Homo sapiens: one gene and its partners. The protein of the gene in region 1 interacts with the protein of each later gene in a pairwise test. Each region holds a gene or a part of one and is shown in the gene's direction. Other genes may lie near its edges. The genes, in order: AARD, TFIP11, CEP57 and KRT24.

Region 1 (6,868 bases):
GTTAGCTGAAATAATTTACCACAAGATTCTGGGTGGGAAAAGAGAAACAGAAGAGTACTTCAGAAAGTCATTTCTCTTGAATTGAGGGGTCAGAGTGAATTGTGGATAGAAAAAAGGATGTGGACTGAGAATAGATTTTCAGAATTCAGGCTTTTAAAGATATCATTCTGGGTGATAGCATACTTTCAGGTGTGGCTCATGTGACTGGATTACTGCAGTGAAACAAATGCCAGAGATGAAGATCAGGGAAATAGAGGGAATCAAATATTTTGTTCAGTTTAATTAACTAGGCAATTGATCACCTAGTATGTGCTAAATGGGTTTTGTGTTGTTGTGAACAAGATATAGGTATTTCCTAACCATTAAGTTAAAAAATGTATATAACAATATATATATTTGTTTTTTAAAAACATATATATAAAACCATATGTTTATTAATTAAGAGGAATCAAAGTCACTTACGTATACCTAGATACTTACCATTTCTTATGTTACTCATTTCTTCCTGAAGATCTGTGTTTCCCTGTACTATTATTTTACTTCAGCTGAGGAATTTCCTTTAGTACTTCTTATAGTGTAAGCCTGCTTGTGACAAATTTTCCTAATTTTCCTTTTTTAAAAACATGCTTTTTGAGATTGGTTTTTGGGAGGATATTTTTGCTGAACTTAGAATTCTGTGTTAATTTAGTTCTCTCTGCGTTTAAAAATATCTCAATGTTTTCTGGACTCCTTTTTTTTTCTGCAGGAAGTCAGAAGTCATTTGTATCATTGTTTACTTACGTGTAATGTACATATGTTTCTCCCATGGTAGTTTAAAAATATATTTGGAAATTTTTGATACTCCCTACTTCAAAAGGTGGAGCTGAGGTTCCTCCCCTTGAATATAGCTCCAACTTAGAGACTTGATACTGATCAGCAGAATGGTAATAACTGACTTCCAAAGCCAGGTCATAAAAATGTAGTTCAGAGCACATGTAAAGAGCTTCTCTCTGGCTCTCTGTATTTCTCTCTTCTTGTTTTGAGGGAAGTCTACCCACTATATCATGAAGACGCTTACACAATAGTAGGAAAGAGTCCACATGGAGAGGAACTGAGGCCTCCCACCAAGTGCTGGCTCCAATTGCCTGGCATTTGAGTGATTCATCTAAGTGATTCACCTTGCCAGCAGATCCTCCAGCGCCAATCACATCCAGCTTCAGAGGATGGAGACCTTGCCTGACATTTGGTTACAACAGCATAAAAGCTAAGGACCATAACCTAAGCTGTTCCCAAATTCTTTCCCACAGAAGCTGTCAGAGAAAATAAATGTTTATTTTTTTAAACCATTGAATTTTGGAGTAATTTGTTATGCAGCAATAAATAATTAATACATTTTCTAATTCAAATGTCTGTGGATGTTATATTCAGTGCTCCAATTCTTCAATTTGCTTTGCCTGTGTAAGAGAAAGAAAAAAAATTGTAAAATTCAAGGTGTACCACAACTGAAAAATTAACCTATAGAGGAAAATTATTAATTTGTGGTAAACCAGTTTATTTTAAAAAAACATTTTGTCTCCTTGGTTTGCCATTGTAGCTTGAGCACCTTGTGTAATGCTTGGTACATAATAAGACATTAAATAAATATTGTTAAATGAATGAATCAATAAATTTGCTTCCTCAGGTTTTAAGCTTCTGGGGGACAAAAACTATGCCTTATTCATCTTTGTATCTCCCTCATATGGCACAATTCTTAACACTGAACATGCGCCATTCACTGTTGAGTTAAATTGAACTTAACTGAAATTCTTGTTGAAGTAAATGATCTGGAAATGGAAGTGAAAAATCATAGCAAAAAATTCATTTTAAACGTTTATATTGTACATTGACTAGTGGTGGTTTTCAAGCCCCATCAACCTATCACCAACCAACAAACAAAAAACCCTAAATTCACACTCCATTGCTGCATGGCAGACCACATGGATTTTTATAATTTCTACCAAGACAACACATCTTCAGATGTTTCTAGGGAATCTTTATGAAGCAATATACAATGGTAGGAATTTTACTGTGCTTGGGTTGTAAACTATTGCAAGCTGTTCAATTTAGTAGATTATCTGCACAGGCTGAGTAACCTGTATTGTTCCTTATCCAGTTGAGCCTTAAGCCATTTCAATAGAGCCGAATTTTATGAACATAGTGAATTTAAACACTTATTCACTCTTACTCACTCACTCATGCAACATATAAACTGAGCAACTCTCTTCCTCTTTGGGAGATAAAGCGTATCCAGGGTGTATCCCAGTGGTTTGGAGCACAAGCCAGACTTCCTAGGTGCAAATTTCCAGTGGATCCCTTACCAGCTTTGAGATCTTTGGTGTACGTCTTAATCTCTTGCCTTAGTTTCCTCAATTGTAAAATGCAGAAACTAATAGTACTTACCTCACAAGGTTGCTGTGAAGATTAATACATAAAAATTGCCTGGCACATACTAAGCATGAATAAAAATCAGTTGTTATTGCCTTCAATGCCTACCATGGACCCTGGAACATTGCAAGTGACTTGTAACTTTTGAATGAATGAATGAATGAATGATGAATAAGATGAGAGTTGTGTCTAAACTATGTTTTGTTTTTTTTTGTAATTGCATTCTTTGATCATACAAAAGTTTTGATTGTTCACTCCTTTTTAGAAATTCCCTATTAGATCAAAAAGAGGCAGAATATGTTCTTTGATAAAGGATATACAGGTAATATTGGCACATGATTACCTGGAGTTGGTGTATTAGTCTGTCCTCTCACTGCTATAAAGAAATACCGGAGACTGGGTAATTTGGAAAGAAAAGAGGTTTAATTGGCTCATGGTTCTGTATGCTATACAGAAAGCATGGCAGCATCTGCTTCTGGGGAGGCCTCAGGGAGCTTTTACTCATAGTGGAAGGCAAAGCGAGAGCAAGTGTCTTACATGGCAGAGCAGGAGTGAGAGAGAGAGAGGAGGTGCCATACACTTTAAACAACCAGATCTGGTAAGAACTCATTCACTATAAAGTACCAGGCGGGAATGGGGCTAAACCCATTCATGAGAACTCTACCTCCATGATCCAATCACCTCCCACCAGGCTTCATCTCCAACACTGGGGATTACAATTCCACTGGAATTTGGTGATGACACAGAGCCAAACCTTATTAGTTGGGAATTAAACACACACACTTTGGGCTAAGGGGAATTTTGATTTTTCATTTTAACCCCTTCATAAACGTGGACATGGCAGACAGGAGTCAAAATAGAAAGGAGCATGGAGACTCAGACTTCCAGGTATGCCTTACTGAACCTGTAGAAGGTACATTCTAACTAGCAAGCAGGGCCAAGGCTCTCCCCCTTGACTGCGGGCAATACCTGGGGAAAGGTGAGGGGTCTAATTAAGCCTTTGCATTCCCCAAACTTGGCAAAGTGCCTGGCAGAGTAGGAAGAAAAAAAATTGTTTTTAAGGAATGACGTATTAGACGATCAAGGCAACCAGGAAGGCTTTGGGTTGAAATATTCTAACCTTTGGTCATAAACCTTCCACCTGTACCTCAACTTCCACTTACATAGGCTGACTGCTCAGTTACCAAGCCTTCTCCTTAGAAAGACTTCCTTTCAATGCAAGCAGCAGAAAAAAGCGACTCAGCTTAAACTTCTCCTGGAGTTATGGGAACCGCCTCCTTCCTCTGTCGCTAATGGAGGACTAAGATGGGACTGGGAGCAAAGGAGCGTCTCTGAATGGCGGGGCAGTTGCAGCATCCCACTTGGCAAGGGTCCTTGAATTACCTCCGCCCCCGCCCTGACCCCGCCCTAAACATCAAACTTAGAAACTCATCTTTCAGCAGCAGCGGTAGAGCAGTGACCAGGCGTCTCCGCGATGGGCCCCGGGGACTTCCGCCGCTGCAGAGAGAGAATTTCCCAGGGGCTCCAGGGACTCCCAGGTAGAGCGGAGCTTTGGTTCCCACCTCGTCCCGCGTGCGACTTCTTCGGGGACGGCAGGAGCACGGACATCCAGGAGGAGGCCCTCGCCGCCAGCCCGCTGCTGGAGGACCTCAGACGACGGCTGACGCGCGCCTTCCAGTGGGCGGTGCAGCGCGCGATCTCGAGGCGCGTGCAGGAGGCGGCGGCGGCGGCGGCGGCGCGGGAGGAGCAGAGCTGGACGGGCGTTGAGGCCACCCTGGCCAGGCTGCGGGCGGAGCTGGTGAGAGAGCGGGCTAGGCGGACGGCTCCCAGGGCTCCCTCTCCCGGGTCCTCTCCTCCAGCTGCAGAGCCGCTGGCCGCGTAGCCCACCCGACGCCTTGGGGGGCCCCTCAGGTCTGGACACGGCGTTGACGCCCCCGCCTCCCCAGCATCGTTGGGAAGGAAAAGGGCCCTGCAGGACCCATGGTGGGGGGTGGGGGCGGGGGTGCCTGGTCTACCAGTGACATACCCAAGATGTCTCCTCCCCAACCCGTTTCTATAGTTTTCTGCCCTGTAGGGAACTGTGACTATGTGTATGTATGGCTCGCGGAGGAGGAAATTTCCATGAAATAAACTCTCTCTTGCGATTGATGGAGTGTGTCCATCAGTAACTCTTTCTTTATGCCCCGCAAGTTTTATTCTTATCTTTCCCGTGGGTAATAATTTAGAAAACTGGAAGTGATAAGGTATTTTGTAAAATTGCACCATTTCGAACATTACACAGGTTACATCCGAATATTAAACAGGAGGGTGTATAGGTAAATATTTTAGCTGACTGATTTTTTTTAATTCAAAAAACTGGAAATTAGTCACAACTTGAAAAGGACACAATGAATAGGAGCAATCAGACTTTAAAATGGTGCTGCCTAGGAAAGTGTGCAGTGGAGACTTGACTTGGAAAATTCTTCTCTTTTGCACTGATTACTAATACAATTAACCACTACTTTAGAACTGAGCCAACCATTAGTAAATTGTCTTATTTAAGAATGTTATCGCATTTCTAAGTTTAAGAAGAACAGTATTAGGCCGGAGCTGTGGCTCATGCCTGTAATCCTAGCTCTTTGGGAGGCCGAGGCAAGTGGATCACCTGAGGCCAGGAGTTCGAGACCAGCCTGGCCAAAATGGTGAAGTCCTGTCTCTACTAAAAATACAAAAATTAGCCAGGTATGGTGGCTGGCACCTGTAATCCCAACTACTCCAGAGGCTGATGCAGGAGAATCGCTTGAACCTGGGAGGCAGAGGCTGCAGTGGGCTGAGATTGCGCCATTGCACTCCAGCCTGGGAGACATGAGTGAAACAACGTCTCAAAAACAAAAAAAGGACAATATCCTAAATTCCGTGTCAGATTCAGATTGTTAACATGGGTTACATTAGATTTACTACCAGATTTACTATCTTATCCAACAATGTCAAAGAAACACCTGGTTTTCACCCTGAGTCTAAGCAGTGAGTCTGAGCTGCAGGGTAGCCGGAGCCACCTCATTCGGCCACTGGAGGCCTGTGCTATGGGCCAGGATGCTAAACTGGAAGGCTGAAACCTGGCGCAGCCATCTCTGCATTGTAGTCTTGGGATCTGCCGGTACTCCTTCCTGAGCCTCAGGGGACTCATATTTAAATCAGATGAGGAGATTACACTGAATAAGCTCAGAGACAGCTTTCAATCATAACATTTTAATAAGTTGCTTGTTAGGAGCTTTAGACAAGCAATATGTTGGGGGTGGCAATAAAATCTCACGAGATCGGGTGCGTTCAGGGTGGTATGGCTGTAGACCGCTGGTGGCAATAAAATCTAAACAGATGAGGGCTCAAATACCAACATTACCATTTACAGGTTCTGCTAACACTTGTTGGCCTTACAACTTTGGGATCGTTACTTAGCCAGTTTGAGTTTGTTTACCCATCTGTAAAATGGAATTTATAATCTCATAGGATTCCAGAGCTTATGTGAGATAATATTCCATGAAATGCTTAGACCATGGGTATTGTTTAGTGGCTCTTATTATTATAATGATTACTATAGACCTTGGACTCTGACTGTACCAAAAAAGAACTGATACATTCCTATAAAAAAATCAGGAGTTTTTCTGGAAAGGAACCAGAGAAGTTTACACATACACAAATAATGTGTCCTTGGGTTACAGACGATGGTCAACATCTTGGTCAATCATTTTATCCTGGTCATAAAGAAGAGGCAAAGGAGTGTGGATACTGTACCTTAATATCATTACCACTAGAAGACTTAGTTTTCAATTTTCGGCTATTAACTGGATTTTTACAGGAACTGACATATATTCCTATACAAGTGTACATGTATCATATATTAGGATGATATTCGTAAGGAACGATGAACAAATTTAATTAATTTAGAGTTGTGTTGCAATTTATACTATTTTCTATTGTTTGACTGGGTTTTCTTAGTAAGAATCATTCACTTCTAGGGTCTGTGAGTGCATCTCAGGGGTTCTATATACCTAAAATTGTATGCAGAATTTTTGATGTGCATATAGTTTTTCCTCAGAGAGGGTTCATAACTTTCATCAGATTCTCAGAGGGATCCTTGATGAAAGAAAAGTTAAAGAACCATTGATGTTTGAATTTCCTAAGTAAGTGTGAATTATACATACTTATTTTACTTAGATGGTAAATCATTACCAATAATTTTTCTCCTTGATTCTTGCATGAAAGTACAGGACGGATATTCATCAGTTAATTAATTAATTAATTAATTCACTCACTCTTATAACAAACACACAGAGAACCTACTAGGTTGTGTGCCCAGGCAGTGCACTCTTAGTTGGGGATACAATTATGAATAATATACAGCCTCTACCCTCAAAATCATCAGTCTCGTCTGGTCAGCGTGTTATGAGGCACTTGTACAGAGTGCTGTGGATGCACAGATGAGAGG
Region 2 (7,000 bases), on another chromosome or scaffold:
GAAATAGGCATTAACAACTCAGACGATCAAACTTGTGACTGTGATGCAGGACATGAGGGACATGAGGACATGAGGGAGAACACATTTTAGGGCATTTCATCTATTCTGAGAGGTCAAGGAAGATTTCTGTGGAGAAAAGTGACCCTTAAGCTGATATGACTGACAGTAGAAGGTAACTAGGGTGGTAGAAGAGGTCCCAATATGCAAAGGCCCTTGATGGGAAGCATCACGGTATCCACAAGGATATGAAAGGCTTGGGGGCTGGAGCAGAGAGGGGGAAGGGTAGCATAGTGTGTGTGATAGAGAGGGTGTGATGTGGGGCTGGGTTATGTTTTGAGAAGACCCTTTTGCTGGTGTGCTCAATAGGCATGGAGCCACAGTGGAAGACTGTGAGGAGGCCAAGCCAGTGGTCCCTGCACAGGTAGTGGAGGACTGGTCTAGGATAGTGGTGGGCAATGAGGATTCAGGCTGCACGTCTTCTCCCCAGCACAAGGTTATGTGTGCCCTGGCTGAACCTCACTCAACCAGGGTGTGCCAGGTTGGGGGTTTTTTCCTCCATGGCCTCACCTGTGGCCTCTAGGCTCTATCCTATTGAGAGTGTGCCTTTTTCTTTTTCTTTTTTTTTTTTTTGAGATGAAGTCTTGCTCTGTCGCCAGGCTGGAGTACAGTGGTGCAATCTTGGCTCACTGCAACCTCTGCCTCCTGGATTCAAGTGATTCTCCTGCCTCAGCCTCCCGAGTAGCTGGGACTACAGGCATGTGCCATCACACCCAGCTAATTTTTGTATTTTTAGTAGAGACGGGGTTTCACCATGTTGGCCAGGATCTCTTGACCTTGTCATCCGCCTGCCTCGGCCTCCGAAAGTGCTGGGATTACAGGCGTGAGCCACCACACCCAGCTGAGAATGTGCCTTTTTCAAAGGAGGCTGGGGGAGAAAGAGTATAGAGATTAGTCCAAACTTCTCATCCACAAGGAAGTCTGAAAGTGGATGACAAATAGATCAGGGAACAAGAATTGCATAATCATAAGATAATAATAATAGCTAACATCTCTTGGCTGCTTACTTGTCCTGGCTATTTCATAAACCTGGATTAATTTTCCTTATGAGAAAGGTACCATTATTGTCCCCATTTTACAGATTAAGAGACTGAGGCTAATGGTCATACAACTAGGCAGAGGCTAAGCTAGAATTGGAACCTGGACCTATCTGACTCTAGAGTTTGGGATCTAAATCACTAAGTTATATTACAATTTTAGGAAAAAACTCCCTAAATTCTGTTGTTGCCCTGAGGGTGTTGAATTACTAGGTTGGTCATTTTACAAGGCATCCCTTTATTTGCTGTATTCCCAGGTTTTCTTTTTTTCTTTGAAACACAGTCTCTATTACCCAAGCTGGAGTGTGCAGTGGCGTGACCTTAGCTCACTGCACCCTCTGTCTCCTGGGTTCAAGCGTTTCTCATGCGTCAGCCTCCTGAGTGGCGTGGGATTACAGGCGTGTGCCACCACACTCAGCTAGTTTTTTGTATTTTTATTAGAGATAGGATTTTGCTATGTTGGCCCAGCTGGTCTTGAACTCCTGGCCTCAAGCCTCCCAAAGTGCTGAGATTATGGGCATGAGCCGCTGTACCTGGCTCCAGGGTTTTTTATTGTAATTTTTTCTTTTTTAAACCACACAGTACAAATATATCAATTTTATTTTATACAAAAAAGACCTGAGGTTAATGGCTTAATGTAAGTACTTGAAGCAGTCAGAGTTTAAATCAATATATTTCATTTTATAGAGTTAATTTCTTATTTCTTAGGGGACTTTAGTGTAATTTTCTTTTCTTTTTTTTTTTTTTTTGGAGATAAGGTCTCACTCTTTTGCCCAGGCTGGGGTGCAGTGACATGATTATAGTTCACCGCAGCTTCAACTTCCTGGGCTCAAGCAATCCTCCCATCTCAGCTTCCCATGTAGTTAGGACCACAGGCTTGCACAACCATGCCTGGCTAATTTTTATTTATTTTTTTTTTATAGAGACGAAGTCTCACCATGTTGCCCTGGCTGGAAATTTTCACATTCAAATAAATTTAATGGCTAGGAGCTTTTTCTAAGTTTGATTAATATAATTGTTACATGCTTTACATTCATATAATCTTTCAATGGGTTTTATTTATGATTTTCCATCAAAATTTCTGCTCCTGTTGGATTTTTGTACTTGAAATAGTTTTCAAAACAATTGCTTTTTATGATAAATTAATTTTTTAAAATGTAGGAAAATTGTATTATCACATCATATTTTGAATTTGTAATCAACCCTACATTGATGTGATAACTCTTCAGCCGTAGAGGGATATGTCAGGTAAAATGTTAAATGTGACTACAGGAAGCCAAATCTGGGGTCCTTTGGATTTTTTGACACATTAAAAAATGTGTTACTTTTTTAAAAAACCTCCCATGAGATTCACTCTAAGGAGTCTTCAAGCACGTAGTTTCTGCAAAAGGATCGCTGCAGAGAAAAGAGTTCTTTACCGACCTGGTGGGGCTTTGTTTCTGTGCCTACAGGGCCCGTGACTACTCTGCGCCAGTCAACTTCATCAGCGCAGGGCTCAAGAAAGGGGCAGCGGAGGAGGCAGAGTTGGAAGATTCTGATGACGAAGAGAAACCTGTTAAGCAGGACGACTTTCCTAAGGATTTTGGACCAAGGAAGCTAAAAACGGTAGTCTCTATTGCAGGATTGTGACCCTAGGAATATCCTTCAAAGGTCATTGTGGCCCAAGCATTTTCTAGCCAGGGAGAAACTCATCTGGAATGAATTTCGTGAGTGTCTCCTTTTGGTGGCAGGTTTCTGTGAGTTGTGAAGTGTGTAGTGCAGTCTCTTCCTTCCTGACACGTTATCACACACATTTTTGGTTCATATGACACTTTTCATAGTGCTGTATAACTTAGGCCATTTTCCTGTTGGCCAAGCTTTCTTAGATTTTTCTTCATTTTGTTTTTCCATTAACTAAGCTTTGATTTTTCTTTTTTGCAGGGTGGCAATTTTAAGCCCAGCCAGAAAGGTTTTGCAGGAGGAACCAAATCTTTCATGGACTTCGGCAGCTGGGAAAGACACACAAAAGGAATTGGACAGAAGCTTCTTCAGAAGATGGGCTACGTCCCTGGACGGGGCCTCGGGAAGAATGCACAAGGTATTGCACCTTTGTCGTCTTGCATGATGGAGGAGGGCAGGCATAGGGAAGGAGAGGGGCGTTGGGAGAGGAGGTTTGCTTTTCCCTTTTAAAAGCACTTTATCTCTCCAGCCTGGTTTGCCAGCACAAGACATTTGCGTTCCTAAGCTACCTTGCTTTATCAAAGCTCAAGTTAAATAAGTAATTGTTTCAACAGCAAGGAAAGGGTTAGGGTCTAAAACAGGCTGCAAACAGGTTGAAAACAGGCTTTTTTTCTGGTCCTGACCAGTGCTTCTAAAAACAAAAATGAGGCTGGGTGTGGTGGCTCATACCTGTAATCCCAGCACTTTGGGAGGCCAAGGCGGGTGGTGGATCGCTTGAGGTCAGGAGTTCAAGACCAGCCTGATGAACATGGTGAAACCCCGTCTCTACTAAAAATACAAAAATCAGTTGGGTGTGGAGGCATGTGCCTGTAATCCCAGCTACTCAGGAGGCTGAGGCAGGAGAATCGCTTGAACCCAGGAAGTGGGGGTTGCAGTGAGCCGAGATCACTCCAGCCTGGGCAACAGAGCGAGACTCCATCCCTGAATAAATAAATAAATAAATAAATAAATAAATAAATAAATAGAATAAATAAAAACAAAAATGAATTAGTTGCTAATATTTAAAAAACAGACAATTTCACCTAAAATTCTAGATTTTGCCTGGCAGTAGTTAGTTGAGGCAAGTGAGAACTGCTCCTGGGACGATGGACATGGCCTTCTCTTGGAGGCAGTCTCCATTACCCCCTGTTGTCTTCCACCCCAACCCACAGGAACTTTTCTTGGTCCCAGAGTCATTTGAGTTTGCCATCCCTACTCACAAGGGTTTTAATTTTGTGGAAATAACCCTATTTGTCCTTCAGGAATATCAGTAAAACATCGTGCATAGTTTTTGTAATAGCTAGAGCCATATGGCTATAAAACTGGCTGAGCAAATCCTGCATTGGTTACTTCCATCTTCCTCTAGTAGCCCAGTCTCCTCCTGTCTTCTCATGGCCAGCCCCATTGAGACACAGCCCCTGTCACACTCTTACCTTCTTGAGACCAAAGCCTCTCAAACCAAACAGTTGGATTCTTCCTACAGGAACATTTCCCCCTCTTCTTGAGCTATTTCCTATGCATGATTGCCAAGTAGATATAATCAAATGTATCCTACATATTCAAATTCCAGTCTCTAAATAATAATAATAACATTATTATTTTTTGAGACAGAATTTCACTCTTGTCACCCAGACTGGAGTGCAGTGGCACGATCTCAACTCATCTGCAACTTCCACCTCCTGGGTTCAAGTGATTCTCCTGCCTCAGCCTCCCGAGTAGCAGGGATTACAGGCACCCGCCACCACGCCCAGCTAATTTTTGTATTTTTGGTAGAGACAGGGTTTTACTGTGTTGGCCAGGCTGGTCTCGAACTCCTGACCTCAAGTGATCCATCCTCCTCGGCCTCCCAAAGTGCTGGGATTATAGGTGTGAGCCACTGCGCCTGGCCTCTAAATAATTATTAAAGTGAAATCCAGGTTATGTGTTGAAAACATTAGGTACATGAAAAATACATGAACTTGAGTAAAGATACACTGAATGAGAATGAGGGGACAGTTTTTTTGCTTTTTTTTGATACAAAGTCTCACTCTGTTACCTAGGGTAGAGTGCAATGGCATGGCATGATCATAGCTCACTGCAGCCTCAACCTCCTGGGCTCAACCCTGCCAAGTAGCTGGGACCACAGGCACACTCTGCTGTGCCTGGCTAATTTTTTCTTTTTTTGTAGATGGGGTCTTACTATGTTGCCCAGGCTGGTTCAAGACCTTGGCCTCCCAAAGTGCTAGGATTACAAGCATAGCCACCACATCTGGCCCAGGGATAGCTCTTATTTAAGACTTCAGTGGAACTAAATGGAAGGGGGGCAGGGATGGAAAATTTGGAGTCAGGGGAACGTCTTCATTGAAATGTTGTGGTCCTATTCGTAAACTCTTTTATGAGAAAAACAACGTTTATTTCCAGGGCTTAAACTTGTTATAAAAAAGTTAAACACAGGAGATAGGAACTCCTAAGTAAAATATGTGAGGAGTCTTATATTAAATTGCAGCTTCACTTCAGTCAGAATCAGTATAGTATTGGAATTATTGCATTTTCCCTAATAGAGGCTCCCAAAGAAGTGAAGCATAGAATTTAGTGTGCTGGAGTTCTCAGTTATAAATGTAGTGTTCTGTTTTCTTCCTGTCCACTAAACAATCCAAGTGGAAATGGAAATCTATTTGGGATATAAATAAACTAGTCAGCAGACTGTTCTGTGGTAGCATAAATGCTCATAAGTTTCAAATCACAAGGGACAAGAGTAGTGTTCTGAGGGCAGAGAATAGCTCTCCTTCCTGAGTAGCATGTTATTTTGTGGAAGGAGCAAGAAACTGTCATTTCACTGAGTGGCTGATTCACATACATGAATTGCTGTGATCGTAAGACTCTCTTTTTTTTTTGCTGAAATTCCTCAGGTATCATTAACCCAATTGAAGCCAAGCAGAGAAAGGGAAAAGGTGCTGTGGGGGCTTATGGATCCGAGCGCACCACTCAGTCCATGCAAGACTTCCCTGTGGTTGACTCAGAGGAAGAAGCTGAAGAGGTAACTGGAAGTCAGGAGACATGGGTGGATGGTGTCCTGTCCATTTCTAATGGCTGTTCATTTATCCCTTCATTCTGTTAGTCCTCAGATGTTTATTGTACATGTACCGTATGCCAGGTACTGGGCTGAAGGCTAGGTGCACCATGATGAGAGGGCTAGGGTGGACAGAGAGTAAACAAGCAGCTGTGGTGTGGAAGTGGCAGTTGAAATGGCAGAAGGTGCCAGGAGCTGCCTAGACAGAAAATAAGGCTGGGGGTTGGGAGGTGGTGTTGACCTACTTTTATAAATAGGCTGGTCAGGGAAACCTTTTGGGAAAGGAAACATTTCAGTTGAGACTTGGCAGAAGGGTGAGCTGACAAGCCAGAGGACACTGAGAGGCTCTGAGCTTGGTGGTTAAGAAACCATAAAGGAAGCCCTTGCGGTGGGAGGGCGGTACACAAAGCAGAGGGGAAGGAAGTGCATTCAGAGGGGTGGGTGGTCCACAAGACAGCCATGACAGCCATTTTTAGGTGCTCAGGTTTCATCCCAAGTGCAGCAGGGAGCCATCTGCTGGCAGCTGTGTGTCCCTTTTCCCCAGTGATAGAAAGGGCCAGCTCTCTTGATTGAAGTATTACTCTTTTCCTGTTTGAATTTATGGGGGAAAGCAGGATGCTGCAAAGAGACATGTTACTCTTCATGTCACTGACCTTTTCATGAAAGAGTTATTTGATAAATGTGGGATTGACCACTGTGAGTCAGGTGTTCTCAGAAGCCTACAGGTGCCAGGCACACCACAGAAGCAAGTAAGATGAGCCAGGTGCTAGACAATAAAGAGTGGTGGGGACTGTGGCACAGAGGTGAGGCTGTAGTCTGTCTAGAAGGTAAATCTTTATTCAGCTCTAGGTGATTGTTGCTTATGAGGATGTGGGCTCAGTATTGCCTGATCCTCTGATTTTCCCAAAGTAGCCAGATGTCTAGATACTTTTAGAGAAAAAATGACAAGTCTTAACCAGTATGAGAAAAACATAGTGACAACCCCAAAACCAACTTCTGTGGGCTGGACTTTACTACCGTCACACTAAGAAAGTTTACAAATTTGTGTTCGTAAACAGGCCGTATTCAGAGCCGTCCTGGGCTGCGGGTTGGACAAGCTTGCCTTAGCTCCTCCTCTAGAAAGGTTTTGCAGACCCTGATTGTAAGAGACACCTTTGCT
Region 3 (6,970 bases), on another chromosome or scaffold:
TTTTAAAGAACGAAAATAAAGGTACATATGTAGAGAAGTCTCATGAATCAAGAATTTGAGGAAACGTCCTTCTACTAATATCCTAGTTACCTTAATGACCATATCATTTATTTAGAAAATGTTAACTTTTCATCACATATAGGTACAAATCATATAAGGAATATATACTGTGAGTTTTCAACTTTGAAAAAATGAGAACAAGCATATTCAACATAAACTATAAAAACATACCTTGATTTTCTTTGATATTCAAAAGATGATTCAGGGCAGTTTAGAGCGTTAAAGTTAGCATTTTTGACCAATAATAAATAATATTGGTATAATATACCTATAATGATTGTAGTATACATATAAGACAATTTGTACTAGGATTGGGTCATGACTTCTGTGAATAAATATCTTTAATTGCGCTGTTTTATAAAAATAGTTCTGAGGAGGCTGTTCTGAAGTGGGCTAAAGTCTGATGATGCAAACTTTATGGATAAGTTCTCCATAACCAAGAATTTGCTATATTTGAATCTCTAAAGAACAGCTTCACAAATTTCACACTGGATTCAATACATGTAAAACAGGTATATAATTTGACTGTTTTTAAATGTTATCACCTTTCCATCAAAGTATCTATAGAAAATGTCTTTCATAAAATATGGTATGTTGAAATATCTAAGAGCATAGCAGTAGTTTTTTTTTTTCGAGACGCAGTCTCGCTCTGTCCCCCAGGCTGGAGTGCAGTGGCAGGATCTCAGCTCACTGCAAACTCCGCCTCCTGAGTTCACGCCATTCTCCTGCCTCAGCCTCTGGAGTAGCTGGGACTACAGGCGCCCACCACCATACCCGGCTCATTTTTTTTTTGTTGTATTTTTAGTAGACATGGGGTTTCACCGTGTTAGCCAGGATGGTCTCCATCTCCTGACCTTGTGATCCGCCCTCCTCGGCCTCCCAAAGTGCTGGGATTACAGGCGTGAGCCACTGTGCCCAGCCAGCAGTACATATTTTTTTAAAAGGTCCAGCTTTATGAAAAATATTAACTGGTAACAATGACATGAAAACATAAGACATACTTACCGTCCCAAATTGCTTCACATTTTGAGCACACTTCTTACAAATTGTGTTAGTTTTGCTGAAAAATAAATTGTATATAGATCATGTTTATGTAGCTTTCTAAAGTAATTAGCACAATGTCAAAATAAAATGAGTCAAAGATTTGTTGTACTTAAAACTTTAATAAGGACCACGGATTTTTTTCAAATATACAAGGATATTTTCAGAGTTGTTTTACCCAAATTAACTTATGACAAATGTTTTTATACATTTTTATTGCATATTACTTTTTGTAAACAAAACATCTTAATGTTTCCTATATAGCTCCAAAATCTTCACACTTGACACTATTACTGCACAGCATTACAATACCAGTGCCTACCTAACCTTCCACTTGGCTACTGTCCAACATTATAATGCCCACACCTATTTATGAAGAAATTATTTGTTCTTTTCTGAGGCTACTTTCTGTATATACTCTCAGAGTGGAACTGTTAAAAATGTTACGTACTACTCCTCTTCTATGTAACAAATTATTAGATTTTCACCTTGGAAGGCAGTTGGTAACACTACAGACCTTTCCTCAGATCCATTAAGGCTTTACCATTTTTTTTTAGTTTAACATAACTGTTTACATTTGCATTTTCATTAGCAAGGCTGTACATTTTCCATGTAGTATTATTCCTTCTCTCATATAAAGTCTAACTGTAAATTAACCACCACTGGTTTTTTTCGCAACATTCTCTCTCCCACCATGTATAAAAGGTTTACAACTTAAAATTTCTGGGGCTAAACCATTTTTTAAAAATACTTTCATAAAAACATGGGATTACAACCCCCAAGTATTCCATAAAGACAACACTTGTCTTTAACAGTCAAAAACTATTCAGTATACAAACCTCTCTTGTTGAAATTCTGATCTGCAGTAAGTACATTTTACAATAGGATGTGCAATCCGACATTCCTGTAATAAGACAATACATTAGTCAGTATCTTTCTGAAAGTCCCAAATCTCACTTTTCTGGTAGAAAACTGTTTACCCAACCTAGTGAAAGTCTAAAACATTTATAAAACCTGGCCCCAACGTAAAGAACTGGATGCTTTATCATATAAGTGGCCAATCACAATATAATTCCTTAGGGAAGGCACAGGTGTCTTTGTCTTTAGTAGACGTGGGGGTATATTACAGACAAATTAAGAAAGCTGTCAGGGCCTATTTCAAGGATTGGTTAAATGTGAAACTACTTATTATTTTGCACCGTTGCTCACAGACAGCATCCAGGCTTTAATGGGATGGGAGGAGCTCCAAATCAGAGCATTCTGTTCCCAAACCAGTCGCTTCGCTTTCCTGGACAGGGAAGAAGGATGCCATCAGCTTTGCGGCTTCGGGTTCCTAGCAAGAAAGTGCAAAAACCGTCCCCTGCCTCCTGGTGGAAGAAGAGGACAGACCAGGCAGAAAACCGAGATGAAAACATCTCCACCCCTGGGTCTCTGCGGCATAGACAGGTGGCTGCCTCACTCAACCCCACTCCTGAGACCCCCAGACGCTGACGGGGCCCGGCACCCTCCTGGGCCGCCTGGAAAAGGGCACGATTCTGCCTCCCTTTCAGGGTCCGTTCCCAGCTAATGTTCAAGCCCCCAGAAAAAGGGGTCCCCGAGTGGGGAGGCGAGGGCTCCAGACTCCCAAACCCCTGAGGCGCCGGCGAAGAGGGGCTGCAGTGCAGCGGCTACCCGGCCCCCTCCGGCTACGGCCGAGGACACCCATCCCGCCCGCCTCCCGGAGCCCACGGACCTTGCAGAGCTGCTGGCCCTGGGAGAGCTCCTCGAAAGGATAACGCTGGGTACACTTGGTGCAGGCGTACAGGGCCGAGGCCGCCATCCTGCTCCTCAGTCTCCTCCTCCGCCGCCGCCCGCTCCGAGGCGGGGCCCTACGGAGAACCCGAGAGCCGCCGCCGCCCGGGCCGCGGGCTCCTCCTCCTCCCCCTCCCCCTGCCTCGCGCCCACCAGGGCCTCGCCGCGAGAGCCCAGGGCCCCGCGGACGACGCCACCGTCTCCCTCCGCCTCCACTTCCGCCCCAGCCCACCCAGTGACGCCGTGCCAGCCGCTCCCGCTTAGGCCCCGATAGCGGCGGAGGGAGACGAAGCGGGTAGGGGGTTGCTGTTTAGCTGTGCGGCCGTGGATCCGCTTCCTTCTCGGCCTCCCTTTCCCATCCCTGATTGGCTGCGAAGGCTATCGCGTCATTCGATGGCTCCTCCCAACTCCCAACTTCCGCGACGCAGGAAGCGCCCACAAAGGGAGGATGTCGCCGGCCAATGACATCCCGGAGCTCTCAGCGCGCGAAATCCGCTTTGAACCTGCCCCGCCCAAAGGTCTGCGGTCGCGGCTATTTCTAACAGCCAGTCCCAGGTTTGGCTGAGAGCGCCCCAATCCAATTGAGCAAATGTTCGCGAAAGGCTCGTTCTCTGCCGCAACTTTTTTTCCCTTGCTTTCTATTGGACTAAATCGTTAAGTCCCTCCTAATCCTATTTGTTATTGGCCAAAAGGTAAATACTTCACCTGGAGAGGCGTCCCCGAGGCAAATTCACGCTCTCTCCGGCGTTTAATCCGAGGGAACTCGTGGAGTGCTTTAACTTCGCCTTCGCTTTTGTTTTATCTCCATTACTCCCTTCAGTTGCCACTGGCGACACCACTACTCGCCCACGCTTCTTACTGGAGGAGGCCCGACCCTCCGTAGAATCCCCGCAGAGCCGGCCTGTAACCCCGGCGTTGTCTGCCCCAGCGGGCCCCGTTACGCGCTACCTTGTGACGTCACCAGGGAAGAGGCGGATTCTCTCCTACTACAGAAAGACGTCTGCTGTTTTGATTGGCTAGGAAAGACGTCCGTTAGGACGTGTTGCCCTTTCTGTGTAAGCTGTGAGCGTAGGCGGCCCTGAGGGGGTGTGTTGCAGGGGTTTCCAAGCCCAGCACCAGCACCCTTGCCCTTTTCCATCAGGGGTTCAGCCTAGGGTCCCCGCTGGTGGGCGGCTCCCGAGTCTTGGAGAAGAGCACGAGAACCTAGACCGCCCCCGAAGTGCGGAGACCCCCTGGGCAGGCTGAAAGATGGCGGCGGCGTCTGTCTCTGCGGCTTCTGGTTCTCACTTGTCGGTAAGAAGCAGTTGGCGCGAGTGGGCCCCACGTCGGCCCTAAGCGCCTCTTTGAGTTTCCTCACGTTTCAGGGCGCTGTCAGTCCAGCTTCTGACGCAATTCTGGAGGTCGGCGGGAATGCCTAGATTGCCCCGCGCTCCCCAAGCTTCCATTCACTGTGGCTGTGTCGAAGCTGCACCCTCTGGCTCCCAGTGAAACTGGGCTGGCCGCCCCTGTTCCCCAGCCCTTATTCACCTTTTGGCGTAGCAACCAACCCCGGTTGCCTAACATTCCCAAGGGCCGGCTGGGATAACTGCCCACTCCCTGGCCTGCAAAAATGTAGCTCTTTTGGTCACGTGGGTTCAGCGGCCCCTCTAGGAAACTCGCCAGATCAGGTGAGGCGCGCCAGTGTGTTTAAGAGACGTTGCAGAATAGTAGTCCGCCGTCTCTCGAGCGCTTACTAGTCGTTGCTTATGCTGTTTCCTATCCCTGCAGTGCCTCCCACTCCCATCCACATTAACTTCGTTGTGTGATGCTCGTAGCCAGAACGCGCGCTTCCTGTCACCTAGAATTACTGGAACTTCAATGTGGAAATGCCCTTTTGGAGAGGCGACAGGGGGAATTGATTTTAAATATTGTTTTCGCCTCATCAAATGTCACCATCCAGTTTAGTTACTGGTATTCACTGGTATTTCTCAAATTGGAGTGTCGAATGCTTAGGTTTTTGAAAACCGCGGCATTGGAAAGCTTTGATAGGAAGTAAATGTTGGAGCTCTTATTTCTCCAGTTAGCAAATGTTCGATGCCTGGTATACTGTTAGGGTCCAAATGAACAGAATAGAAACCCTGCTTTGAAGGAGAAAAACACTGAAGAGAAACTACACGTAATTAGTGATTACTGCGCAGTATAGTTTAGGAAGTGCTACCGTAGTAGAATAATCTAGAGGGGAGTGATTAACAGTGCTTGGGTAGGCTAGAGAAGGTTTCCTAGAAGGGAAGATGGAGCTAGTTGCGTGTCGAAGGAATTGTGATTGCTTGTCCCAAGAGTAGAGAAAGGAGAAAAAGGCAGTGCGGGAATTTTGGAGTATGTGCTAGAACAGTAGGTGCTTTTAGGAAACTTGAGATAGTTCGGAATGAGAAGAAGTAATACGGAGGTAGAGCTGGATGAGGTGAATTGGAAACGTAGGTAAAAACGTGAAAAAAGAAGGATGGTGAGGGAAGGAACTAGAAGAGTATCAGGGTAAAGTTATTTTCTAGGATCTAGGGGGAAAGAGTTGGAAACGCTAAGAAAGCCTGGTCACCTTGGAGAAGTCAGTTTCAGCTTTTGGAGACTTGTTAGAATTTGTAATAATGGGACTAGAAGTATTACAGTGTTTCAGCCGAATGGGAATTAGAAGTTTGCAGAGAGGTCTGGGGAAGTTAAGGAGAAGTAAGGAAAGCAGCAATTTAAGGTTATTCAGGATTAGGTCAGTAAAAGAAAAAAGTAAAAAACTATTGGAAGTGTCAGCAGATGGATGAGATTTTATAGGAGATGTGATTAAACTTGGGAGAAGAGGGCTTTTCACGGCTCTCAAAAGTTAAGCACTTGGAGACCGAACAAGGAATACTCTTACAAATGTTGAATTGAGTCTGGGTGCGTGGCTCATGCCTGTAATACCAGCTACTAGTGAGGCTGAGGCGGGAGGATCACTGAGGCTGAAGTGAGGTATGATAGTGCCACTGCTCTCCAGCCTGGGCGACAGAGCGACCCTGTCTCCATAAAATAAAATATTAAATAAACGTTTAATTGAGCTGCACTATGCCAAGGACACCTAGGTGAGCATTGGCACTGGGATATAGTCAGCTGTTAATACTTATACGGTACCCTTGACAGAAATACCAAAGACTGTTCATTAGGAAAGCATATTTTTTTTGTGCTAAGCTCAGCTTTAATAGGATTCTAAATATCAAGGGTACACTAAGAATATCTAGGAACCTCCACAAATCAAAGTATAACAACCATAACTCAATCTGCTACATCAAAATGTCTATTTTGGAAGTTACTGTTTCTCAAAACAAAAATGACTAAATTTAGTTGGTTTCTTGGTGCGTAAGAAAACGTCCTGCTTAGATGTCCCATCAGAAATAAGGCTGCCATTTCCAACAGCGTTGGAAAAGCACTTAGCTTATCAAACAGCTGATCTTAACAGTAGGCAACATTTAAAAAAAAAAAAACTTGTTAAAACTATACCATGAACTGAGAACACAACTCGTATTCAGATTTCACGGTTATGAAGATTAACAACTGTTATATTCAACTGTTTTCGACATTGATAAACTCATACGGAGCTAGTTATAAGTACATTGAGATGCTTTACAGGCAAAGATTTTTAACAAGTAGATTCATAAATAACCGTCTTTGGGAAGCAGTGACCATGTAAATCTCAAATGTGAACAGCATGGAAGTAGGGCGATAGGTTTCAGTTAGGTTCTAGGTAACGTTTATTGAGTGATTGCTCTGGAATTGATAAACTTCGACTGGTGGAAAAGGCAGGAAAGCAACTATGATTGGGCATAATGAAATTAATTCCATATGGAGGTATGGGCAGCATTGTGTTGAAATACACAAGAATGTCTTTCATGTCAGCCTTGTAATATTTTCACAATAACCTTGGTGATTAATGACCTAATCTCTTGATTTGTCCCTCTGACTTTTGGTCCTTCGACCAAGCTGCACAGTAGCTCCATATTAATTTCCCTTAAAAATGTTTTATGGCTATCATACATTTTATAATATTAAATATAAGATTTACTTTTTGAGAATAATA
Region 4 (8,034 bases), on another chromosome or scaffold:
TGGTGGACAGAGGACAAGAGACTTGAGACTGATGAAGCTTTCTTCTGAGCCTATCATATAAAATATGATCTTGTGTAAAATACCATGCCATTCTTTTGCTATGAAACTACTATTTAAGCCCTGGATTCCTTGACCAAAGATTTGCAGCTTCTCTGACATCAGAGGGCAGCAGGAGGTTGAGGGGTCAAGCTGGAAGAGACAGAGCAGGAAGGCCCAGTGTATCAACTTAGCATTGGCAAGAGGCACAGGGGCTAGGCCCTACTGCTCAAGTTATGATCTGGATTGTTCATGCTTTTGGATTCTCTGAAGAGAAGACTACTGTCTGTCTGGTATGAAGAAAGGCACAAAAGGACTTTTTAAGCAGAGCTAATCCTTGAAAACTGTGCTTATTTCAAACTGTCTTATCTGTGGAGCCTGGAGGACAAAGCATCCCAACCCCCGCAAAGTCACTCACCCATTCTCTTAATTCTCCATAAACTCACGGAAAGATCTTCAGGAAACATAGAGAATTGAGTTATTTAAAGAGATTTGAAAGCACTCACATACAAGAACAAAGCCAGGTGATTTTTCTTCCCAGAACAAAATTTGGCAAAATGGCATGACCAAGCAGATGCTTCCTGGTGGAGAAGAGGAAGCCTTCAAATAGACACACTTAAGTGAAACCAGGAAGAGAAAGAATGGACGAGGGTGGTGGGGAAGGAGAGAAAGTGATGAAGGAAGAGAAACAGCCACAGAATTGGTGGATTTCTGGGGTGTGACAATGACACACCCAATCCATCGACGGGTGGTGCCAGATCTACTGGAGTGGGCTCTTAGTCATGTTATTATTGCAAAACCTTTTTTCTCTTCCAAGTAGTTGACCCTGGCGGGGCCTAGAGCAGCCACCAGCAGGAAGCTGGCCCAAACAATGATTCCCTACAGGAAGGTCCCCGGTTGACTCTTGCCTGACCTTTCTGCCCTCTTCCCAAACAACATTTCCTCTTACTGCCAAGCCCCGCTCTCCGCCACCACACACTGAGAATCACTAACCCAGAAGTGGAGCATAAAGATTCAGAAAACAAAACACAACACATAGTAAAGAACAAAAGTAATCAGTGATCCAAGTTGTTCATGAAGAAAATCAGGCCATGTTAGTTTTTATTAATTCAAGGAATATTTATTGTCTATCTACTATCTGTCATTGCAACGGCATTGCAAAGAGACTGTTCACACATCAAATTTATACTTTCCAATGTGTCCAAAAGAAAGAAAATTGCTATATTAAAGAGATGTCTGTGCTCCCATGTTTATTACAGCACTACTGACAAGATTTAGAAGCAACCTAAGCATCCATCAACAGTAGAATGGATAAAGAAAAAGTGGCACAGGTCAGGCGCGGTGGCTCATGCCTGTAATCCCAGCACTTTGGGAAGCCAAGGAGGGCGGATCACGAGGTCAGGAGTTCAAGATCAGCCTGGCCAACATGGTGAAACCCTGTCTCTACTGAAAATATGAAAATTAGCTGGTCATGGTGGTGGGTGCCTGTAATCCCAGCTACTCGGGAGGCTGAGGCAGGAGAATCGCTTGAACACAGGAGGTGGAGGTTGCAGTGAGCCGAGATCGCGCCATTGCACTCAAGTCTGGGTGACGAGAGTGAAACCTGTCTTAAAAAAAAAAAAAAGTGGCACATATACACAACGGAGTACTATTCAGTCATGAAAAGAATGAGATCTTGTCATTTGCAACAACGTGGATGAAACTGGAGGTCATTATGTTAAGTGAAATACGCCAAGCACAAAAAGACAAACTTTGTGTATTCTCACTTACTTGTGGGAGCTAAAAATTCAAACAATTGAACTCATGAAGATAGAGAGTAGAATGATGGTTATCAGAGGCTGGGAAGGGAAACGGGGGAGTAGGGGAAAAGTGAGGACGCTTGATGGGTACCAAAAATAGTTAGAAAAATGAATAAGACCTAGTGTTTCATAGTATAACAGAGTGACTATAGTCAATAATAATTTACTTGTATAATTTATAATAACTAAAAAATAGTATAATTGGAATGTTTGTAACACAAAGGATAAGTGCTGGAGGTGATGGGTACCCCATTTACCCTGATGGGATATGTACACCTATATCAAAATATCTTATGTACCCCATAAATCTATATACCTACTATGCACCCACAAAAGTTAAAAGTTAAAATTTTTTTAAATGTATATTTTCCCTTCTTTTTTACTGTCTGCCACAGAAAGTTTTGTCAACATTCAACAAATACTCTAAACCCAGCAACTTCCCTTAACTACTCTGATGTGATGCTTCTATTTGAAAAACACAAAACAGTATATTTTCTTGAATGAACAGAAGATAGAATACCCAAGTTCTGTTCTCAATTCTGTAAAGATTCATCAGGAGCCATATGCCATGCATTTCAGTATTTGGTTTTCCTACTAGTCTAAAAACCTGCAATATGTTAATCTGAAAAATATTTAAATACTAATAATCTATCCCCCACACACACAAAAAAAAATTGATGGTTACTATCTGCAAATCATTCTGCACTTATTATTAAAATCATATTCTATAAGGAAATATAGCTTTTATATGTTTCTTTACAGGTAGAAATAAACTTCTAATCACAAACTATTCAAAATTTGAACTGGGAGCCCAGACACCTAAGATTCAGTCTGTCTCTCTCTCTCTGTCTTTTTTTTTTTTTTTTTTTTGAGATGGAGTCTCGCACTGTCGCCCAGGCTGGAGTGCAGTGGCACAATCTCTGCTCACTGTAAGCTCCACCCACCGGGTTCAAGCAATTCTCCTGCTTCAGCCTCCGAAGGAGCTGGGATTTAAACGTGCTTTCAGCCAAATGCAAGTCTTTATGAAAATTGAAAGATTACATTTCATAGTTTTAAAAGGGAGAAACACTCTGTGACTGTTCCTCCCATTGCCAGCATTTGCATACCATTTAATCATTAGGGTTTAGTTTTCTTTGGTTTCACAGCTTTAGGGATGGGCGAGGCAGGATGACCAACACATTATGTGTGGTGCATTTTTTAGCTACTTTAGAAGGGCGTTATAAAAATTACTCCCAGCTTAACAATTTAAAATTTTGTACACCATGTACCCCTTGGAGATATGTCACCCTAAATATGAAGAAGAGTAACATCATACTCCTGTGAAAACAGTACAGGTAGATCATAAAAGCCACATAAGAGCTACATAGTAAAGTGAATGATTACCTATTTAATCATGTGTCCCAATAAAATGCAATTTAAGGAAAAATTTAAAGCAGAACATTGTTTAACAAATAATTGAATATAAAGATTAAGGTGTGAACATAGTTTAACAGAGACTGGCAAAAGAAGGAAGAAATTCTTAAATAAACAAAAGTCAGCTACTTAAGTTTAAAGCTAAGGAGGATACAAACTATTTCTGGAAGCACCTGTTTTTTAAGACTTTTTAAAAATTGTGGTAAAATACATATAACATAAACTTATCATCTTCATCATTTATAAGTTTACAGTTCAGTAGTCTTAAGTGTACTGACATTGTTGTGCAACCAATCTCCCAAACTCTTTTCTTTTTTTTTTTTTTAGACGAGTCTCACTCTGTCTCTGAGGCTGGAGTCCAGTGGCACAATCTTGGCTCACTGCAACCTCTGCCTCCCGGGTTCAAGCAATTCTCTGCCTCAGCCTCCCAAGTAGCTAGGATTTCAGGCGCCTGCCACCATGCCTGGCTAATTTTTTGTATTTTTAGTAGAGACGGGATTTCACCATCTTGGCCAGGCTGGTCTCGAACTCCTGACCTCAGGTGATCCACCTGCCTCGGCCTCCCAAAGAGCTGGGATTACAGGTGTGAGCCACCACGCCTGGCCCCAAACTCTTTTCATATTGCAAAATTAAAATTCTATGCCCAGTAAGCAACAACTGTCTATCCCCAACCCTTCGGCCACTGGCAACTACCATTCTACTTTCTGTCTCTGTGAATTTGACTACTCTAGGCACCTCATAGTACTGGAATTATACAGTATCTGTCTTTCAAAAAGACACTATTAAACCGGTGAAGTGACTAGAAGACATGAATGGAAACAGTCTAAAATACAAAGGGACAAAAAGCCATGAAGCACAAAGGGAGCTCAGGAGGGTTCAGAATCTATAAAATAACTCCAATTGTAACACTAGTTATCAGAAGTAGATACAAATCCTCTTTTATCTTTAAAACGAAGGCAGGAGATATCTGCATCATCTCTTCATTTCTTGAAATTTGACTCAAAAAGGAAGTTGCTGTCTTTATATCAGACTAGAATTCAACCAGAAAGAAAATCGTATTAAAACAATCTGCCTAAAAGCTTTTCAATCTTTCTTAGACATTAGCTACTTGAATAAACATGTTGCTGAGATGTAATAATACTTACCTAGAAAACTATTATTTATGTTTTTCTTATGAACTATAAAACATAATTGTTACAAATTATATGCTTTTTTGTATATTATACAAAATACAAAAAAAGAAAGCAATAACTTAAAATCACAAACTTCAACAACCTTAAAAAACACGCTGATTGAAATAATCAAAGAGATGGATGCTTAATCAAATCTGAAATTATTGCTGATGTGAAAGCTAATTTCAACTTTTGAGAACAATATGAACAAAAAAGTTACATGATTGATGGGAAATTTTTATTCTCATCATATTAAGTATTTTAATTACATTTGTTAACCTGGAGATATTCTCTGCAAATGTGAAATCATGAAGCAAATTTAATAGAACTACACTTCCAGAGAAAAGTTACCAATCATCAAAACCTCTGAAAGATTAAAACTGTAATTCTGAAAATTTTTTTGTTTTGCTCCACTTTATTCTTTTTTTATTGATATAGTAAATGTCCCAGGGCTCTGACCTAGCTTCAGAGAAGTGTTCAAGAAACAGAAATTATCCAATTACGGATTACCAAAACTGTAACAGGGATTAAGAAGTGACAGAGAAAAGGAACACCCTCGAAGTGTGTATATAAAGGCCAAAAAGGCAGCCTTGAATACACTCTTCGTCATCACCTCTCCTATTCGCCTGGACAAGCTCATGTTTGCAGGAGCACCATGTCTTGCTCGTCTCGCGCCTCCTCCTCCAGGGCTGGAGGCAGCAGCTCAGCCAGGGTGTCTGCTGGTGGAAGCAGCTTCAGCAGTGGAAGCAGATGTGGTCTGGGGGGCAGCTCGGCCCAGGGCTTCCGAGGAGGAGCCAGCAGCTGCAGCCTGAGTGGGGGGTCTAGCGGTGCTTTTGGGGGCAGCTTTGGAGGGGGCTTTGGTAGCTGCTCAGTAGGGGGTGGTTTTGGGGGAGCTTCAGGCTCTGGGACAGGATTTGGTGGGGGTTCTAGCTTTGGCGGGGTCTCTGGATTTGGCAGGGGTTCTGGATTCTGTGGGAGTTCTAGATTCAGCAGTGGTGCTACTGGAGGCTTCTACAGCTATGGTGGTGGTATGGGAGGTGGTGTTGGCGATGGGGGGCTTTTCTCTGGAGGGGAAAAGCAAACCATGCAGAACCTCAATGACCGCTTGGCCAATTACCTAGACAAGGTCAGAGCCCTGGAGGAGGCTAACACTGATCTGGAGAACAAAATCAAGGAGTGGTATGACAAATATGGGCCTGGGTCTGGAGACGGTGGATCGGGAAGAGATTATAGCAAATACTATTCAATAATTGAAGATCTCAGAAACCAGGTGAGACTATCTGTGCCTGAGTTTCTATTATTTGTGGATCTTTCACTTCTTTTCAGATCATGTACTATAATGAAAATTTTAAGAAATTATTTGAAAACATATTTGCTTGTTACATATGCAAAGTGGGACCTGATGTGTCTTAATTATTATAGTACCTTATGTGATGTCCAATCACATTAATTTTCTGTTTCCATCTCAGTTTCAGTATTTCTACATAACAGTAAAACTTATACAACACCAGGCAGCTAATTATCATTTATATATAAGAATGGTGGCAGTGAGTCAACATTAGTTTAATCTAATTATTTATGATGAATTCTGACAGACTGACACATTTTATTGTCTTACAAGATTTAAATATTCTTTAGTATTATTTTTCTTCCCAGAAAATCTGGTGCAAACATTACATAAGAATGTAGTAGAATCTAAAATGTTTAGCCACTTTTGTATGGGAAATATATTTTTAAAGACTTTTTTGGAAGTGAAATACAATTTTTGCACTATTTTCTGAAAAAGCTCATGAGATAATGATCTAACAAAGTAGCAGAAATATGCAGAGGACTATGTCCTGTAAAACAGGTTCCTGTGCCTAGTCCAATAAATGTGCAGACTGTTATCTTTTTGCAGAAAGATGTAGTCCTAAATATACCAGCCCCAGATATACAGGTCTGGGGCTGTATACTTAGTCATTACTAAGTAAGTTTGCAAAGCAAGTCACCTTTAAAAGCTAATAGCACAGGCCGGGCACGGTGGCTCACACCTGTAATCCCAGCACTTTAGGAGGCTGAGGCGGGCAAATCACTTGAGGTCAGGAATTTGAGATTAGCCTGGCCAACATGGTGAAACCCCGTGTCTACTAAAAACACACACACAAAAAAAATTAGCCGGGCATAGTGGCACGCCCCTGTAATCCCAGCTACTCAGGAGGCTGAGGCTCAAGAATCGCTTAAACATGGGAGGCGGAGGTTGCAGTGAGCTGAGATCTTGCCACTGCACTCCAGCCTGGGCGACAGAGCGAGACTCTGTCTCTACACACACACAAAAAAAAGAGCTAATAACACAGGCAACAGCTACCCTTACAAGTAGGCATGCAGACACAAGGTAAAAATCATTCGTGATTCACTCACTATTAACATCTTTTTTAGATCATTGCTGCCACTGTTGAAAATGCTGGGATCATTTTGCACATTGACAATGCCAGATTGGCTGCTGATGACTTCAGACTGAAGTAAGAAACATAAAGACTTGAAAACAAGTGTTACGGGAGAAAAATAAATTTTATTCCATTTTATAAATAAATATATATATATATATATATATATATATATATATATATATATATATATATATATATACTAGAGGATCATGACCTAAATTTACAAACATCCCAAGGGTAAACTTTAGACCATTAGACAAATCTCCACTGATGCTGGGGCAGGTAGATCCTCTCTGCTGAGCACCTAAGCCAGTAGCTACACACCGGCCGCTTCTGCTCCTTTCATCAGCCTACAACAGCTGCAAAAGAAAAAAGAAAAAGAAAAAAGAAAGAGGCAAATTTAGAATGAGAATTTTATTATTAAAAATGTTAGACATGATTAGAATTAACATTACATTGGTATTTTTCTTTACAAGGGAAAATTTCCCAAGAGAAAACTTAATAACCTTTATTTATTAAAATGCCCACAAGTGAGAACTTTTTCAATATGTAAGAATGGAAGGTACCCTTTGAAACACGGCCAGGTGAGCTCACAGTATTTTTTGCCTTACTGCTGCCCCTTCCAGGTATGAGAACGAGCTGTGTCTCCGGCAGAGCGTGGAGGCTGACATCAATGGCCTGCGGAAAGTCCTGGATGACCTGACTATGACCCGCTCTGACCTGGAGATGCAGATTGAGAGTTTCACCGAGGAGCTAGCCTACCTGAGGAAGAACCACGAGGAGGTAGGAACATGTTCTACATAAACGAATAACTCTAGCTAACATATTTCTCCCCATATGCATTCTATACAAATAAAATTGGCTGGGTGCAGTGGCTCATGCCTTTAGTCTCAGCTACTCTGGAGGCCGAGGCAGGGGGATCCCTTGAACCCAGGAGTTGGAGGCCACAGTGAGCTATGATCATGCCACTGGATTCCAGCCTGAGCAACAGAGAGATACTGTGTCTCTAAAAAAGTAAAATAGGCCTGGCACGGTGGCTTATGCCTGTAATCTCAGCACTCTGGGAGGCCAAGGCAGGCAGATCATGAGATCAGGATTTCGAGACCAGCCTGACCAACATGGTGAAACCCCCTCTCTACTAAAAATACAAAAATAAACAGGGCATGATGGCGCACACCTGTTGCACCT

Evidence for each region.
Region 2: the proteins of AARD (region 1) and TFIP11 interact in binary tests that used the Homo sapiens proteins (3 or more experiments, as listed by UniProt).
Region 3: the proteins of AARD (region 1) and CEP57 interact in binary tests that used the Homo sapiens proteins (3 or more experiments, as listed by UniProt).
Region 4: the proteins of AARD (region 1) and KRT24 interact in binary tests that used the Homo sapiens proteins (3 or more experiments, as listed by UniProt).

What each region holds. Positions count from the first base shown.
Region 1 is NC_000008.11:116,934,367-116,941,234, forward strand, and holds the start of AARD (alanine- and arginine-rich domain-containing protein), read left to right. Parts: upstream 1-3,840; 5' UTR 3,841-3,877; coding exon 3,878-4,201; intron 4,202-6,868.
Region 2 is NC_000022.11:26,502,474-26,509,473, reverse strand, and holds part of TFIP11 (tuftelin-interacting protein 11), read left to right. Parts: intron 1-2,545; coding exon 2,546-2,699; intron 2,700-3,014; coding exon 3,015-3,171; intron 3,172-5,680; coding exon 5,681-5,808; intron 5,809-7,000. UniProt on the Homo sapiens protein: Involved in pre-mRNA splicing, specifically in spliceosome disassembly during late-stage splicing events. Intron turnover seems to proceed through reactions in two lariat-intron associated complexes termed Intron Large (IL) and Intron Small (IS).
Region 3 is NC_000011.10:95,786,559-95,793,528, forward strand, and holds the start of CEP57 (centrosomal protein of 57 kDa), read left to right. Parts: upstream 1-3,939; 5' UTR 3,940-4,140; coding exon 4,141-4,185; intron 4,186-6,970. Other genes in the region: protein FAM76B, read right to left, coding at 1,066-1,120, 1,941-2,005, 2,834-2,920. UniProt on the Homo sapiens protein: Centrosomal protein which may be required for microtubule attachment to centrosomes. May act by forming ring-like structures around microtubules. Mediates nuclear translocation and mitogenic activity of the internalized growth factor FGF2, but that of FGF1.
Region 4 is NC_000017.11:40,700,735-40,708,768, reverse strand, and holds the start of KRT24 (keratin, type I cytoskeletal 24), read left to right. Parts: upstream 1-5,016; 5' UTR 5,017-5,075; coding exon 5,076-5,690; intron 5,691-6,835; coding exon 6,836-6,918; intron 6,919-7,472; coding exon 7,473-7,629; intron 7,630-8,034.